2 separate regions of the Homo sapiens genome follow, and region 1 is linked to region 2. A link means that fine-mapping ties the variant in region 2 to the expression of a gene that starts in the linked region. Tissue or cell type: whole blood. Region 2 holds a variant in brackets; the other region holds the start of a gene. All regions are shown on one strand. Distances are between the middles of the regions.

Region 1 (8,103 bases), 94 kb before region 2:
GGGAGGCCTTCCTGACTCCACTTCGCTGCTAAGTCTAGAGCAAATTCCTCAGTGGAGTACCCAGGATTTCCTTCCAGAGCCCTCAGTTTTGTAATTATATGAGTGAATCTGTCTCCCTTTGTTGGCAAGGGCTATTTTATTCACCACCATACTCCCAGTGTCTGAAAGCATCTGAAACAGTGTCAATCTATATAAAATACATTCATAATGTCTAAGAAGTGTTTTTAATGGTGTCATAAAATGTCCATGTTATAACATGGAATGTAAGAAGTCAGGATACAATCTTAACTAGTAAAAACTATACCGGGATGAGCCGGGCACGGTGGCTCATTCCTGTAATCCCAGCACTTTGGGAGACTCAGGCAAGTGGATAGCCTGAGGTCAGCAGTTTGAGACCAGCCTGGCCAACAGAGTCAAACCCCGTCTCTACTAAAAATACAAAAAATTAGCTGGGCATGGTGGTGGGCACCTGTAATCTCAGCTAGTAGGGAGGCTGAGGCAGGAGAATTGCTTGAACCTGGGAGGCGGCGGTCGCAGTGAGCCGAGATCGTGCCATTGCACTCCAGCCTGGGTAACAAAAGCGAAACTCCGTCTCAAAAAAATCCAAAAAAACCCCCCCGAAAAAACAAAAAAAACTATGCCGGAAAGATACACCAAGAACATGAATACTGGGCCAGGTGCGGTGGCTCACGCCTGTAATTCCAGCATTTTGGGAAGCTGAGAGGGGCGGATAACCTGAGGTCAAGAATTTGAGAGTAGCCTGGCCAACACGGTGAAACCCTTTCTCTACCAAAAATAAAAAAAAAATAGCTGGACGTGGTGGCACACACCTGTAATCCCTGCTACTCGGGAAGCTGAGGCATGAGAATCGCTTGAACCTGGGAGGCAGAAGGTACAGTGAGCTGCGATCGTGCTACTGTACTCCAGCATCGGCGACAGAGGGAGACTTCGTCTCAAAAAAAAGAACATGAATGCTGAGATGTTAATAATGTTCATCTCTATTCTAGGGAGTGGAATAACGGTAGTTATTTACTTCTTTGTGCTTTCCTGTATTTACCACAGGCAAACATTGCTATTATTTTTGAGACAAGGTCTCACTCTGTTGCCCAGGCTGCAGTGCAGCGGTGTGATCATGGCTCACTGCAGCCTCATCCTCCTGGGCTCAGGTGATCCTCCCACTCAGCCTCCCAGGGTAGTGTGGGTCACTGCACCCAGCCCATTATTTTTATGGTTAGGAAAAAATCATGCTTTTAAAAGCAAACAATGAGATGTGAGGATGATTGTGCTAGAGCAGAGGCGGGCTTATGAGATCACTCTGGGCCTCAGCTCCTCCTTGCTCACTGGTACTCCCTCCCTGACAGCACTGGTCAACCAGGGCACAGGGACTCACCTTCGGGGGTCTCTTTCCCCCAGCCTGTCAGTCAGGACATAGCTGGTCTTCTCACCCTCTTTGGTTAAACCCTAGTAGGGAGGGGAGTGAGAGAGACAAGGCTTGAGGCTTTTGGACAGTTCAGGTAAAGTGTAAGCCATGGGGAGTCAGGCCCCTCCATCTGGTTCCCAGCTCTGGGTCCTCTCTCCCAAGCAGGGCCAAGATTGGCAAATCAGGGACCCTTGGCAGTAGATGCCCCAACTCCCATGGCAGCCAGCACCATGACCGTCAAATAGCCCCTGTTTACCAGTGGCAAACCCATGGTCTTATGGGAAGGGCCCTGGGAAGGGGTTAGGCAGCCTGAGTGTGGATTCTGGTGGCCTCTGCACCCCTAAATAAATACCGGGAAAGAAACTCCGTGAAGTCAGGGGCAGGTTTGCCTCATTCCCTGCTACACCCTAGTGCTTAAGGGTATGGCCCAGAATGGACACCAGGAGATATTTGCTGAGCCAGTGAAGGGAGGAAGGGATGGTCTCTGCCTTCTTGTAGCCAGGAAGAACAGTCTTAACCCCAGATTGAGAGTCAGTCCAATTTGAAATAGAAGCTGTGTGAACCTGAGTGAGTCAACTACACATCTGTTTCTTAATTTGTAAATGGGTATAAAGACCTACTAGATAGGAGTATAAGGACTAAACCTGATAAGGGTGGAGCATGAATAAGACACTTAACAGTGGTTATAGCTGGGGAATGGGATGGGTGATAAGGAGAGATCCATTACTTTATCTAGAACTGTTTGAAATGTTTTCCTATAAGTTTGTATTATACACAATAAAAACTAAGGACCAATTGCACAGATGCCCAAGTGGCAACTTCCCTAGTCCTGAAATCCTGATACCACCCTGTGGGCAGAGCAACTCAGCTGTGGCTTCTCCAGAGTCCACAGAAGAAGGGCTGTAGTCATTTCAGGGCTGAAATGTGGCCATACCTGGCCCTAGGACAGGGTTCCTCACCTGGACAGGTTCTCCATCACGCCACACCAGACCTTCTCCATCACTTTCCCAGCAAAGGTGAACTTCCTGGCCCACCCATGCCTCTGGGATGGTCAGCTCCACCCGGAACCAGCAGGTCCACCATCTGCAAGAGAGCTGTTGTGATAGGCCTAGAGGTAGAAGTCCTATCCTGATATCCTTCCTTGGATAAAGTGTCGGCAGGGGCTTGAAACTCTCCAAGCATCTGCAGTGTCACAAGGTACTCAGCTTTGAGTCACAAGAAAGGAGCAACAAGGTGAGAAGCAAGATGAGGGAAACAGGCAGAGGCGTCAAAGGTTCGTGATCCCTAGGGTGCCCTTCCTAAGGGATGTCCAGAGGCGGCCACGTGGGAATGAAAACCATCCCCTGAAGACCCAGGGACCAGAGAGCTGTTCCCAGCAGAGGGTGCTGCTCCCAGCAGAGGGTGCTGCTCGATCCCACGTAGTTGTCTACGGCAGAGGGCAGACAACGAAGGTGTGGCTGGGAGCTGGGTTGGGACTTCCCCTAGGCCTGTGGCCCCGCCCACCCGCTGGGCGTTACCTACGTGGGTCCGAAGCTGTCGCCGACCTGCGCGGGGCGGAAGTCCCGCTGGACTGCCTCCTGGTAGGGAAGTCTCTCCGGCGTCAGGAAGCTGGAGAGCACAGCCACAGGGCAGCTGGCCCCAAAAAGCCTGCGTGGGACGGGCCGGTGGGCACATGCTGGAGGCCGCCCCGTTTCCGCCTGGGGGCCAGCTGGCCGGTGGGGCCGCACTTTCCCTGGATCCTCCGCCAAGAGGGCTGCCTGGCCGCTCCGCGGCACAGTCCATTCCCTACCCCCTCCTCCCCGGCCCCTGCCCTGCCCGCGGCGGGCACTTTGTCCCGCGGCCCGGGTGGCTGCAGCTTAGGTTTCTCCCCGGAAGGAAAGCTTGAGGCGCACGGTTGCGGTCGGCCGGCTGCGGGGGACCAGGGGCCACACCTGCCGCGGAGGTTACAGTCGGTAAAGTAGAGCGGCGACACGAACTTCTCCACCCGCTCCAGCGTGGTGCGCCAGTGCTTCAAGGCCGGCGCAGCCGCCATCGCCGGGCTCTCGCTCCTCTTTCCGGAAGGCCCCTGGCGCTACCGTTCCGCTCCACGGCAGGAAACCAAAGGTTCCGGCGTCCAGAGGGCGCCTCCCAGTCCCGGGCAGCTTTTCTTGGAACACCGGCGGCTCTCGGAAGCCCAGCTGCTGTCTGAACTTTGAGCCGAGTTGGAAGCTAGAAACTGTTTTTGAGGCTCTCCTATGTTGTCCGAAATAGTGGGCCGCAGGGAAAATCTCAAAATAAAATGGGAAATTTGACGATTAGAACTCTCGAAAGTCTCAAGACAGAGACTTAGGCCATTCGGCAAGACAGGCGGGAGCCTCAGCTGCTGCAGACCCAGCCTCAGAAGCAGCAACCGGGAGACCTCTGGCTCTAGCTGTCGGTGAACACGGAAAGTGGTGTTTGCTTAACGTGGAGCCAGACTACCCGGAATAGGTGTTTTCATACCGGACGGAGATCAGGGTGTTAGTGAGCAGGGTGGTAGAGCTTTACGCCCAAGTTACTACGACTTACTCGATTACACGCTTTACTGAATGTATATTGCTAACTCTTGCACATCACCAGAAACTCTGGAGTTTGAGGTGGCAGAACAGTCATGGCATTGACGATCCCAATGGAAAAATGTATTTCACCATACAGGACTGTAGAGTCCCGGGAAGCCATAATACCAGAAACAGACCTCCAGTTTCATTCTCATCCCTAGTACTCCACTGACAGCTTTATTTTTTTTCTCCTGGGGTTGCCAAGAGTCTTTGTCTATAAAATCATTAGGAACAAAAAAAAATACACAAGATTAGCCCTGATATTTTAATGGAAATACTGACCAAGTTTACAACATTTCAAATGCAGATCACACGGAAAGGTGACTAAGTACAGAATAACAAATGTGATTTAAAACAAAGATAACCTGCTGCTGCATATAATACAGGTTGGGTTTAGAGCTTGGAGCTCAGATGTCAGACAGCAGGAGGAATAAAAATGCTACTTGTGAAAACCCAGGCTGTAGGTAAAACTTACTCTTTTGTTGGTTGCACTGGTGGGTTGGGACTTTCTCCTGAACTGGCCTTGAAATCCTATCCTGACCTGCAGGCAAGTGCTCTGGACAAAACACTGCAGGGGCAGCAACAGCTGGGGCTGACCCTGATCACACCCCACCAATTTCCCCTATGGTTCCAGGTCAACATGACCTTTCTTGAGGGAACACGGGGATAGGTGAATTATTTGAGAAAACCTCAAGATCTTTCCCCTAAATCAGTACACATGACCACCGCCAAGTCAGACACTGCCCCAGCTTTGCCCTAAAATCTCATCCCACAAAGCTCTTTTTGGCACCCTACACTTTGGCTCACAGTCTCTTCTCCCCAGTACAAAAAAAGCCTAAAATCAGGCCAGGGTGGCTCACACCTGTAATCTCAGCACTTTGCGAGGCCGAGGTGGGAGGACAGCTTGAGGCCAGGAGTTTGAGACCAACCTGGGCAGCATAGCAAGACCCTGTCTCTACAAAAAGTTAAAAAATTAGCTGGGCGTGGTGGCATGCAGCTACTCAGGAGGCCGAGGTGGGAGGACTGCTTGAGCCTGGGAGGTCAAGCCTGCAGTGAGCTATGATCGTGGCACTGCACTCCAGTGTGGGTCATAAAGCGAGACACTGTCTTTAAACAATAAAAGCCTAAAATCAGAGAGGTCTACCATGTGTTTTGAAAATCCAGGAGCCAAAAAATTTTGTTTTTCTTTTTGGTGGTGGTGGTGATTTTTAACTAAAAAGCAAACATAAAACACACAGAACATTGCTGGTTACAACTAAGACTTGCGTAATGGTTGCTGAAGAAAAATCCACCAGAGTACTGGGAGGGGCTCAGTTGGTCTTTGTTCAGAAAGTCCAGGTTAACCACATAGAAAAATCCTAATCATTCATGTTTAAATGTCTGCTAGTTTAAATTTATGTAATTAAAAAAATAGGTATCCCATTTCAAATTCTCTCCCTCCCAACTCCATTTATAAGGTATACCACATGCCTTATGCACACTTTTTTTTCAAACACTGGTTTGGTATTTAAGTTGCTCACCCCCATCCATCACCAATGTGAATAAGAAAAAATATATAGAAATACAAACTACATAGCTTGACAACTTACCCAAATATAAAATATTTTCAGATTATTTGAACAAGGGAAAAAAACACGTACTAAAAGACTTAAGTATTCTAAGATTTTGGAATATTTTGATTTGGGACAAGTAACAAGTATTTTAAGCAAAATCCTGTTTCTACCCTGGATAAGGAACTGAAGTCAAAATCCCTGCTTCACAGTATTTTCTGGTGAGGACAAGGGACGTGGGTTGAGAGTTTATTCCTTAAGTAAGAACCAAGCTTTATTTATTTACAAAAAAAAAAAAAAAAAAGTTGGGGGCAAAGGGGAAGACAAGTTTTACACAAAAGTACTACAATGGTAACTCCCTTTGGTAAAAAGTGTAATAAATGTCTTGTACATCTGTTCATAGGTACTAAATCTGAAGCCACAGTACTATGGTACACAAGAAGCTAGAGCAGTTATGCTAGCACATCAAAGCATATTTCTTTTAATAAAAAATTGACAGTATGTACATTATGTACAAAAAAACAAGTTAAAATTGTGTGTGTGTGTGCGTGTGTGTGTCAGAGAGTAAAGCTGGTGGATGGCACTAAGGTAGACTAGTAAAGAGGCAGATACAAAACAGTTCCACGGGAGCTAAAAAGGACAACTGATTTGAACTCGTTGAGGTTGAGAACCAGAGGAGAGAAAAGGGTAGGCAGCAAGGGAATCGTCAGGAATAAAATCCACAAGATGATCAATCCCAAAGCCAAACTGCAGGTCCCAGATAAAACCTAATGGGTGATCTTAGATGTGCTCGAGTGACCAGAAAAAAAAAATCAAATCCAGCTTTTTTTTCCTTTTGTGGGGAGGGGAGAGGAGCAGTGACCATGATAGTTCCAATCCATCTGAGTATTAAGTCCTTCTCCAGTCTGTTTTGTAAATGCATCTCCATCCAGTCAAAGTGTGAACAGCATCCGGTTCCCTCATTGAAAGTTAGGCCACAGGAGACTCCAGTCTTAGCTCTGCTGGTGTGTGCAAGCAAACTGCATGTCTTTGCTTGCATGGACTTCCTTCCCCTCCAGGGCAGGCTATACCCAAAACCCTTTGGGAAAAGTTCCAGCTTCAGCTTTGTAAGGTATTCATGTTCCTAACAGGTAGCCCACTTGGTGCCAGGCTGCACCAGCCACACACAGGTCAGGTGGCCATGTCCCAGAGAGGCCCAGTGAGGCTTGAAAGGCATCTTCCTTGTTTCTTCAGTGTGTGAGTGCATAGGCCCACACACACATCCCCACACACACCCCAAGTTATCTGCTCTGGCTTTGCAGTTAAGGGGCTTTGAATACTGTGCCGTATTTGACACGATACTTGTTAATGCTCACAAAATGCAGGGTCTCTGTATCACAGGTGGTGGTACAGGGCACCAGGCCCTCCAGCCCCTCACCCATGAGCCACTTGCTGGTCTCTGCTGCCATTTCACGGGGCACATGCTCCTTGGTCCATTTATCTACCCAGGCCTGGAATCTCTGATGTAGACGCTTGCTTACACGCTCATGGGACTGCAAAACAGAAAAAAAAAATTTTATTAAATGAAGCAGAACCAAAAAAGAGCCCTTCAAATACAAAGCCTAATTTTCTTCTAAAGGAGCAAAGGAAAGATGTGGGCTCAAGTCTTAGATACCACTGTTTTTTTCTTAAAAGAAAAAAAAAAGGATTCTCTGTTTAAAGAGAAGTTAAAGAGGTAAGAACATAGAACATGTGAGGGCATGAAAATCCATAAAGCCTCCAAAGAAATGCGAACACAGGCTCTGGGCTGAAAAAGCTCGCTGTTCTCAATTTTAGCATGCGTTAGTATAACCGAGGGAATGTGTTAAAAAATACACATTTCTGACCAGGTGCAGTGACTCATGCCTGTAATCCTAGTACTCTGGGAGGCTGAGGCAGGCAGTTCGCTTGAGCTCAGGAGTTTGAGACCAGCCTGGGCAACATGGCAAAACCCCATCTCTACAAAAATACAAATAATAACTGGGCGTGGTGGCACACACCTGTAGTCCCAGCTACTTGGTAGGCTGAAGTGGGAGGATCGCTTGAGCCAGGAGGTGGAGGCTGCAGTGAGCCAAGATCGCACCACCGCACCCCAGCCTAGATGACAGAGCCAAACCCTGTCTCCAAAAAAAAAAAAAAAAAAAACCCAAAACCCCCAAAACCCACATTTCCTTGGTTTACCAATGTGCATTTTAAACCAGCAATCCAGCTGATTCTAATGTATCCTGGGTAGGACCCAGTGAGCCATTGATCACTTCTATCAGCATGGAGATCCACCTCTAAGCCAGACAGTGCAAAGCAAAGGGCTTAAAACCACTCTCCCTCCACTGTGTTACCCCACCCTGGGAAGCAGAGTCCAGGCTTGGCAGATGTTCTGCAGGGGGTTCTGTTCCCACCAACACATTCAATAAAAATTTATTGGTGTCCACATGCAAGGATACTAGAAGAGATACAAAGACAAAACTGGTGTTGCCCAGTGTCCCAAATAATGTGAATCAGAGACAGGCAGACACACAACACATAGCAAAAAAAATGAGCC
Region 2 (8,103 bases):
ACCCAGGAGGTGGAGGTTGTAGTGAGCTGAGATTGCACCACTGCACTCCAGCCTGGGCGATAAGAGTGAAACTCCATCTCAAAAAAAAAAAATTAGCTGTGTGTGGTTGCATGTGCCTACAGTCCGAGCTACTCGGGAGGCTGAGGCAGGAGAATCGCTTGATCCTGGGAGGTGGAGGTTGCAGTGAACCGAGATCACATCACTGCACTCCAGCCTGGGTGACAAGAGCAAAACTTTGTCTCAAAAAAAAAAAAAAATTAGCTGTCCATGGTGGCAACATGCCTACAGTCCCAGCTAGTTGGGAGGCTGAGGCAGGAGAATTGTTTGAACCTGGGAGGCGGAGGTTGCAGTGAGCCTAGATCGCGCCACTTCACTCCAGCCTGGGCAGAAGAGTGAAACTCTTTGAGAGTTTTTTTTGAGACAGAGTCTCAAAAAGAACCCAGTCGGGTGCAGTGCCTCACACCTGTAATCCTAGTACTTTGGGAGGCCCAGGTGGTTGGATCACCTGAGGTCAGGAGTCCAAGACCAGCCTGGCTAACATGGCAAAACCCCGTCTCTACTAAAAATAGAAAAATTAGCTGGGCGTGGTAGTGGGCGCCTATAATCCCAGCTACTCAGGAGGCTGAGGCAGGAGAATCACTTGAACCCGGGAGGCAGAAGTTGCAATGAGCCGAGATCATGCCATCTCACTCCAGCCTGGGTGGGGAAGAGTGAAACTCCATCTCAAAGAAAAAAAAAAAAAAAAAGAACCAATCCCCTGATGGCTGGATCCCCATCTCAAATTCCTGCTCTATTTCTTAATTTCTTAAGGGGCTCTAGCTGAAGGCATAACAGATACTGTGTCAAAGTGAGATGAGGCAGATTGGTGGAGCAGAAAGAACTAGTCTGGAAGTTGAGTCCCCTGGTTCCCACTTAGTCCCTTCTTATCTGTGGATCAGCTTCCTCTCCTATATAAGAGGATAACATAGCAATCCTTGCCCTGTTATGAGGATCAAATGTGATGATAAAGTGTGCTTTATCACCTGGTAAGGTTCTGAGCTGCTGTGGAAGCCAAAGACCCAGCATTTGACAGTGATACTAGGCAGCACGTGTTGTGCTGTGGATGCAGTTACTCATGGAGGATTTGCAACTGCAACAGTTACCTCCACTCAGAGAACCAGGCTTTGCTGACACTGCCCATGGTCCTATGTGTGCCACCCTGGTGGAGACCTCCTCCTGAACACTTGGCAGACTGAGTTTCTTGAGGACAGACACTTCGATGCACCTCTGAGTCCCCAGAGCTCACTGCAGTCAGATACAGGGGGCCCTTTGGAAGGGGTCCAGTGATGGTTTCTCACTCAGTATGTTGACACCTGGACAGCACGGCAAGTCCCACATTCTTTGGGAAAGAGAACGCTTGATTTGGTGACATTGTCCCTCCAGCTGCCAGCTGCACTGAGGGATTACATCCATGCTACTCCCCTGACTACCCTATCAGTGAAGACAAAACTAAGTGGACTTTGTGAACCAACTGGTATAGGTAAAAATAATAATAATGATAATAATTAAAATAAAATTAAGTGGATTTGGGTAAGGGCCCTCCTAGGAGAAATCACACTGGTAGGTCAGGTTCTGATTCCTGGAGGCCCGTTTTATGTGAAAAGTCTCATAGACCAGCCTGGGCAACACAGTGAGACTGTCTCTACAAAAAATAAAAACAAATTTAGTTGGGCATGGTGGCATGTCCCTGTGGTCCCAGCTACTCAAGAGGCTGAGGCAGGAAGGTCACCTGAGCCTGGGAGGTTGAGACTGCTGTTAGCTGTAATCACACCGCTGCACTTGAGCCTGGGAGACAGAGCAAGACCCTGTCTCAAACAACAACAACAACAAATTCTTGTAGAGTTTGTGAGTTAGGGATTATTATCCTTAGTTATAGATGAGCAAACTGAGGCTAACAGCAGTAGAGTGACTTGCTCAAGTCAAATAGCTTAAGGGAAGTCTGGGTCCAAAGTCTAAGCTTTGCCTCCACTCCCACACGCTGTCTTTGTGCACTCCGGCCAGTGACCCAGGTTGGGGCCTGGAGAAAAACAGCCTGACTCCCCTGTTGCTCCACACTCCTCACCTCCCTAACTTAAAGATCAGTTTATCCTCAGACAATTCTAAATGATTTCTGGCCGTTTCCAGAAAATTATCCAGAAAAGCAACATTTGTCTGATGCACATACATACATACATACACAGAAGACCTAAACTCGCAACACATAAACTCAAATCTATCACACCTCCTGACACCCTCAATCTCACAGGTGTCTCACATACACCCTCTCTCTTTCACAAAAAGGACTCATTCAAAGTTCTTTAGGGCACTTATGGTAGGTGGTGACTGAGAGACATTTAGGGCCTGCACTTCAGTGACTCTGCCAAGGATATCAGTGCCAGCACCCTATCCACACAAGCTCTGAGGGCTAAGACTCTCAGTAATATCCAGGTAAGGAGGATATGAGGCTGGCTCCCCAGGGACCCACAACCCAAAGCATCTTCTAGGTTCAAGGCAAGATGATTTTGGCAAATCATTTATCTTTTCAGTTTCTTTATCTGTAATCTAAGAATCAGAATACCTACTTCGGTGGGAAGATGTGAGATTTAAAATTAAGTATGCCTGCCGGGCGTGGTGGCTCACGCCTGTAATCCCAACACTTTGGATCACGAAGTCAGATCAAGACTATCCTGGCTAACACAGTGAAACCCCGTCTCTACTAAAAATACAAAAAAATTAGCCGGGCATGGTGGCACGCGCCTGTAGTCCCAGCTACTTGGGAGGCTGAGGCAGGAGAATCACTTGAGCCGGGGAGCCGGAGGTTGCAGTGATCCGAGATCATGCCACTGCACTCCAGCCTGGGCGACAGAGACTCTGTCTCAAAAAAAAAAAAAAAAAATTAAGTATCCCTAGCATTCAGTCAAGAGTTCTCATATCTTTTTCCCCTCCTTTATCTCATCCCTACCTCCCTCTTCTCCTGGCCATTCAAATGCAAAGTCCGATTGAGCAATGAGCCCTGGAGCAGGCCTAGAGGGCCAAATAATCCCATGATGTGAAGAAACTCCATTTCTCTTGCAACCAGGTTTAGATGGTATATATTCCGTAATTTCTGATTTCTGGGTGGCCTTGGAGGCTCGGAATTTTTTTTTTTTCTTTGAGACGGAGTCTCGCTCTGTCATCCAGGCTGGAGTGCAGTGGCGCGATCTCAGCTCACTGCAAGCTCAGCTTCCCGGTTTCACGCCATTCTCCTGGGAGGCTCGGAATGTTTGAAGGAATTTTTATGACTGCTACTCACTGCCTTGAAATGTTTCCCCTGGCTGAGCATTAGTTTACCCTTCTGGGTCACTCAGCATGTTCCTCAGTTTACCTGGCTTTATGTTTTCAAAGTGTTTCCTTCTCTTTACCAGTTGTTTGGTGGCTTTTTTTTTTTTTTTTTTGAGACAGAGTTTCGCTCTTCTTGCCCAGGCTGGAGTGCAATGGCGCGATCTCCGCTCACCGAAACCTCCGTCTCCTGGGTTCAAGCGATTCTTCTGCCTCAACCTCCCCAGTAGCTAGGATTACAGGCTTGCGCCACCATACCCGGCTAATTTTGTATTTTTAGGAGAGATGGGGTTTCTCTGTGTTGGTCAGGCTGGTCTCAAACTCCCGACCTCAAGTGATCCACCCGCCTTGGCCTCCCAAGGTGCTGGGATTACAGGTGTGAGCCACTGCGCCTGGCCTGACGTTTTTTTTTTTTTTTTTAAAGCAACGAGTTCCTTTGTTACTGCTTTTTAAAAATAGAATAGCTTGCCATTTGAGAATTTATTATTTTTATTTATTTTTTTAGAGACGGGGTTTTGCCATGTTGCTCAGGTTGGTCTGAAACTCCTGGCCTCAAGTGATCCTCCCACCTTAGCCCCCCAAAGCACTGGGATTACAGGCCTGAGCCACTGCACCCAGCAAGGTCCTTTGTTCAAAGAAAATCTTATTCAGAAGCCTAATGTGTAAGAGATCAAGGTGGGCCTTGTTTTGGTTTAAGTGAGGACAGCCTGGGCACTGCAGTCTATTCCTTCACATCTCTCTCATGCAGCCTCCCTAACAGCCACATAGTCCCTTCGAAGACTTCTAATGAACCCACATTTCAGATCTTGTTCATTCGTCCCAGCCACTACCTACCTCTCAGCAGCCTGTGACAAAGCAGCCTGGCTTTGTGCTCAGTTACCTCTGCCTGTTCATTAGTATCCTTCAGCAGCTTTTCTTCCTCCGCCCATTACCTAAATGTTGGTGACATCCAAACGTATCTCCTCTCTTGCCTTCCTCATTCTCACTTCAAGGCTCATTGCTTCTGTCTAACTAAGTCCTAAACTGACATCTCCAGACCAGTATCTGCCCTGCACATCAGACTCCAGACTTCCACTGGATGCTGGCCACAGAAAATTTTTTATTAAAAATACATTTTTTCACAGAAGAAAATTCATTA[A/G]AAGTCAAGAAAGAGCCCCCAGATGAAATGGCTGACCTTTACTCAGGTGCACATCTGGCCAGTCTTGAGGCTTTAAGACAAACTACGCAGCAGCATTAGAGAAGTAGTAGATTATAATGTGCGGGGAGGGGAGACGGACGTGAGCCTGGAGTCTGAGAGGGGCACTGTACCGTTTTTTCCAACACCCCCAGCTAGGATTCTAGTGGAGTTAGCTATGTCCACCATGGCCTTAGCCTGAAAAATATGGGCATTTAAGACTTCAGCAGGCCACATTTAGCTCAAACAGGAGGATTTTATGACAGCCAAGGTAAAGAAGGGAGATTTAAACATTGTAACAGGTTTCAAGGTGCTAGATTTTTTTTCCCCCAAGAAAACATCTCCAAGTAAAAGTGATATATTTCTATTTGTGGAGAAGATCCTAGTCTTCTCTGTAGTCAATTATGAACAGTGCAGTCTAGAACACTTGATATTCACAAGTGTTGTGTAAAGGTAACTATAGGGCGGATACCTCCTAAGAGAAAAAGATGGTTCCCAGGCTGATGGGCATTTCCATTCCTGCCCTTGGTAGGCTCACAGTGGTTTGTGGGAGTAACCAAGGCCAGAGAGAAATCTAAGGACTAGGTTGGGAGCTATAGGACCCTTGGTCTGTTCATGCTTTGCCTCTGAGAAACCCTGTAGACCCCACATTAAGAAACAGGGAAACTTTAAAGGCCTATAGGCTGGTCTTGGAGATGACAGAGACCTGACCTGCTTTTCCTCCAATTGGAAGGCCAAGGGGGAAGAGAACTGAGGGAAGCTAGGGAAGTAGCAGCAGCTTGAAAGAAGAGACTCTGAAAACACACTAAAACTGGAGAGGCTGGGTGTGGTGGCCCATGCCTGTAATCCTCTCACTTTGGGAGGCCGAGGCAGGAGGATTGCTTGAGGCTGGAGTTCGAGACCAGCCTGGGCAACATAGTGAGATCCTGTCTCTAGAGAGAGAGAGAGAAAAAAAAAAAAAGCTGGGTTCCTGCTTGAGCCCAGTTGTTGAGACTGCAGTGAGCCATGATCATGCCACTCCCCTCTAACCTAGGCAACAGAGTGAGACTCTGTCTCTGAAAGTAAAAAAAATGAAAAGTGGGGAGTGCTAGTGGGAGCCAACTCAACCCAAGTAAAGGCCTAATAGCTCCTCTATGGGTGTTTGCACTGTCTAACAAAGAACTGGACCCTGACAGTCAGAGGACCCATGGTAGGATCATCTAGTGTAGCCCCTTCTTTTACAGAGGGAACCTAGGACTTGGGTTTGGTTCAGTGGTAAGACCTCAAAACCACAAAAGAGCTGGGTCACTCTAGAGAAGCTTTTCTACTTGGCCAATGCCTCTTGGCCCAATTCCCTCTAGGTCTCTGATTTATAAAAGTTTTTGTATGTGTGTCTGTCTGTCCCAAGAGACAGGAAGCATTCCTTTCAGGGAAGGAACCAAATTTCCCTAGGGCTATGATGCTAAATAGTCCATTCTCCCAAGAACAAGTCCTACTCTGTCATTTACCTGCATACTGTCACATGAAGACTGATAAGGGTGGGCCTCCGAGGCTGAGGATGCTGGGGCACCCTTCGTCTCAGGAGTCCCATCCTAGCCAATGAGGATGGGCAAGATGAAGGGAGCAATGGGAAAAAGGACACAGGGATTATCTCATGTTTGAAAAATTATATAGCATGGGAATGTTAGAGAAAGGTGAAACAAACAGCCATCAAATCAGAAGCAGAAGCCTGCTTTAGCTCAGTGTTTTCTTCTTTCCTGAACACTGTCTTTCTTTTTTATTTATTTATTTTTTTTGAGATGGAGTTTTACTCTTGTTGCCCAGGCTAGAGTGCAATGGCGCGATCTCGGCTCATTGCAACCTCTGCCTCCCAGATTCAAGTGATTCTCCCATTTCAGCCTCCCGAGTAGCTGGGATTACAAGCACATACCACCACACCCGGGTAATTTTTATATTTTTAGTAGAGATGGGGTTTCATCATATTGGTCAGGCTGGTCTCAAACTCCTGACCTCAGGTGATCTGCCCACCTCGGCCTTCCAAAGTACTGGGATTACAGGCATAAAGCCACTGCACTTGGACCCTGAGCATTTTCTCTTGCTTTGTTCACTAAGTCTCCTGTATGAGAACCCTGACTTGCCAAACAGATTCTGGGTTGCGTCTCTGCCTTCCCTTTCCTTTACCTCCTCCTTTAACACCTAACACAGGTAGGTTCACGCTGGTAAAAGCTACAAACAATGGCAGTGGGAGGAGTTCCTCTGAGTTTTACTGAAAATTTAGGAGACATCAATTTGTTAACTCTCTATAGGGTCAGAAACATGAACTAAATCTATGGTTCCCAAACCTGGATAATCCTGTCACTCACTAACAACCTACTGGATGGGCCCAGAAATCAGCATTTTATGGAGCTGAAGTGATAGATAACCTCACCAGTCTTCAGATATGCAATGAGGAACTCATGCATAACCTTAAATTCACAGGGCAGTCGGGTTACAGCCTCTTCAAATAAATGACAATTTAAAGTTACCTCCTCCAGGCCGTTTATCATTAATCCCATTTCTTACATGTTCCACCAAACCCCTGACCTCTCTGGTTTCTCAGATTTCCAAGAATCTCTGTTCACTTCTTATGTTTGTGCACTCCCAAGAGAATGGAGGCTCATCTGGAGAAGGAACTAGATTAATCTTCTGCTCTACACTTGAGCTCCTGATTATGGTAAGAAACTCGATAAAAATTTATTGGCAGATCAGAAGATGGATCCTTAGAGGAAGTCTAGTGTAAGAGGTGAAAGAAGATACTTTGGAGTCAGATGGTCTGGGATCCTGGCTGTAGCAAATTAACATTCCTGTCTCTCAATTTTTTTCTTCTGTCAATACCTACCTCAAAAGGTTGTTGAGGGTGAATGAGATGATACCTAGAAATTACTCTGAACAGTGCCTGGAATAGAGTGAGCATCCAGTAAATTGGCTGCTATGACTATTATTAAGAACACCCCAATATTTCCCAGCCACAACTGCCCCAACTGGGCAGGCCATCAACAGCCAACAGGTATGATATGGGGAGTGGTCTTCCATGTACAAAGCTTCTGGTTCCTTTCTTTCTAAGAGATAAATGCAAATGACTCAAGATCTTCTCACAAAGACCATGTACCCATAGATATGGAGTCTCCTGGGGAGAATGATAACCCCTTTGGTACGCTGCAGACATGAGGACCCTACATCAGGAGGTCCTAGCTAGGACAGTCAGTCACCAACCCTGTCACCCTTCGCGTCTACTACATGAAGCATGGGCACAAGAACAACAACCTGGAATTTAAGAACTTTTTTTACTCTGAAAGGAGAGCTAAACAAACCTCTGTTCTCCAAACACAAGATCTCCATCTTCCATGCAGTGAAGAGACCACAGGCTTTGTAAGCAGACCAACTTGAGCTCGTTTTAGAGCAAATCACTGTAACCCTCTGGACCTCACCTTCCTCATCTATATAGAAATGAGAAAGGGGTGCACAGGAGAAGGGAGAGAAGATAATATCTCACTGAATTGTTGTGAGGTTTGAATGAGGCAGGGTGGGGGAAAAGCACCTAGCATAGTGCTTAGCACATCTCAAGCACTGAACTG

Evidence for each region. PIP is the estimated chance that this variant, and not a neighbour inherited with it, causes the effect.
Region 1: it holds the start of MAN2C1, and the variant in region 2 is fine-mapped to the expression of MAN2C1 in whole blood (INTERVAL, PIP above 0.99).

What each region holds. Positions count from the first base shown.
Region 1 is chr15:75,365,132-75,373,234 of GRCh38, forward strand. It overlaps MAN2C1 (mannosidase alpha class 2C member 1), which reads right to left and starts at 3,476. Exons shown (of 26, transcript NM_006715.4): 1 at 3,352-3,476; 2 at 2,942-3,067; 3 at 2,380-2,503; 4 at 1,391-1,461. The coding sequence starts at 3,452. SIN3A (SIN3 transcription regulator family member A) reads right to left here. Exons shown (of 21, transcript NM_001145358.2): 21 at 4,248-7,078. The coding sequence ends at 6,848. RefSeq lists a silencer at 3,143-3,222 and enhancers at 3,249-3,781, 3,353-3,672, 3,357-3,651.
Region 2 is chr15:75,458,836-75,466,938 of GRCh38, forward strand. PTPN9 (protein tyrosine phosphatase non-receptor type 9) reads right to left here. Exons shown (of 13, transcript NM_002833.4): 13 at 4,416-8,103. Among named protein-coding and RNA genes, the nearest start is that of SIN3A, 11 kb to the left of the region's middle. RefSeq lists an enhancer at 1,853-2,147. The variant A/G (reference allele first, on the strand shown) is at 4,475.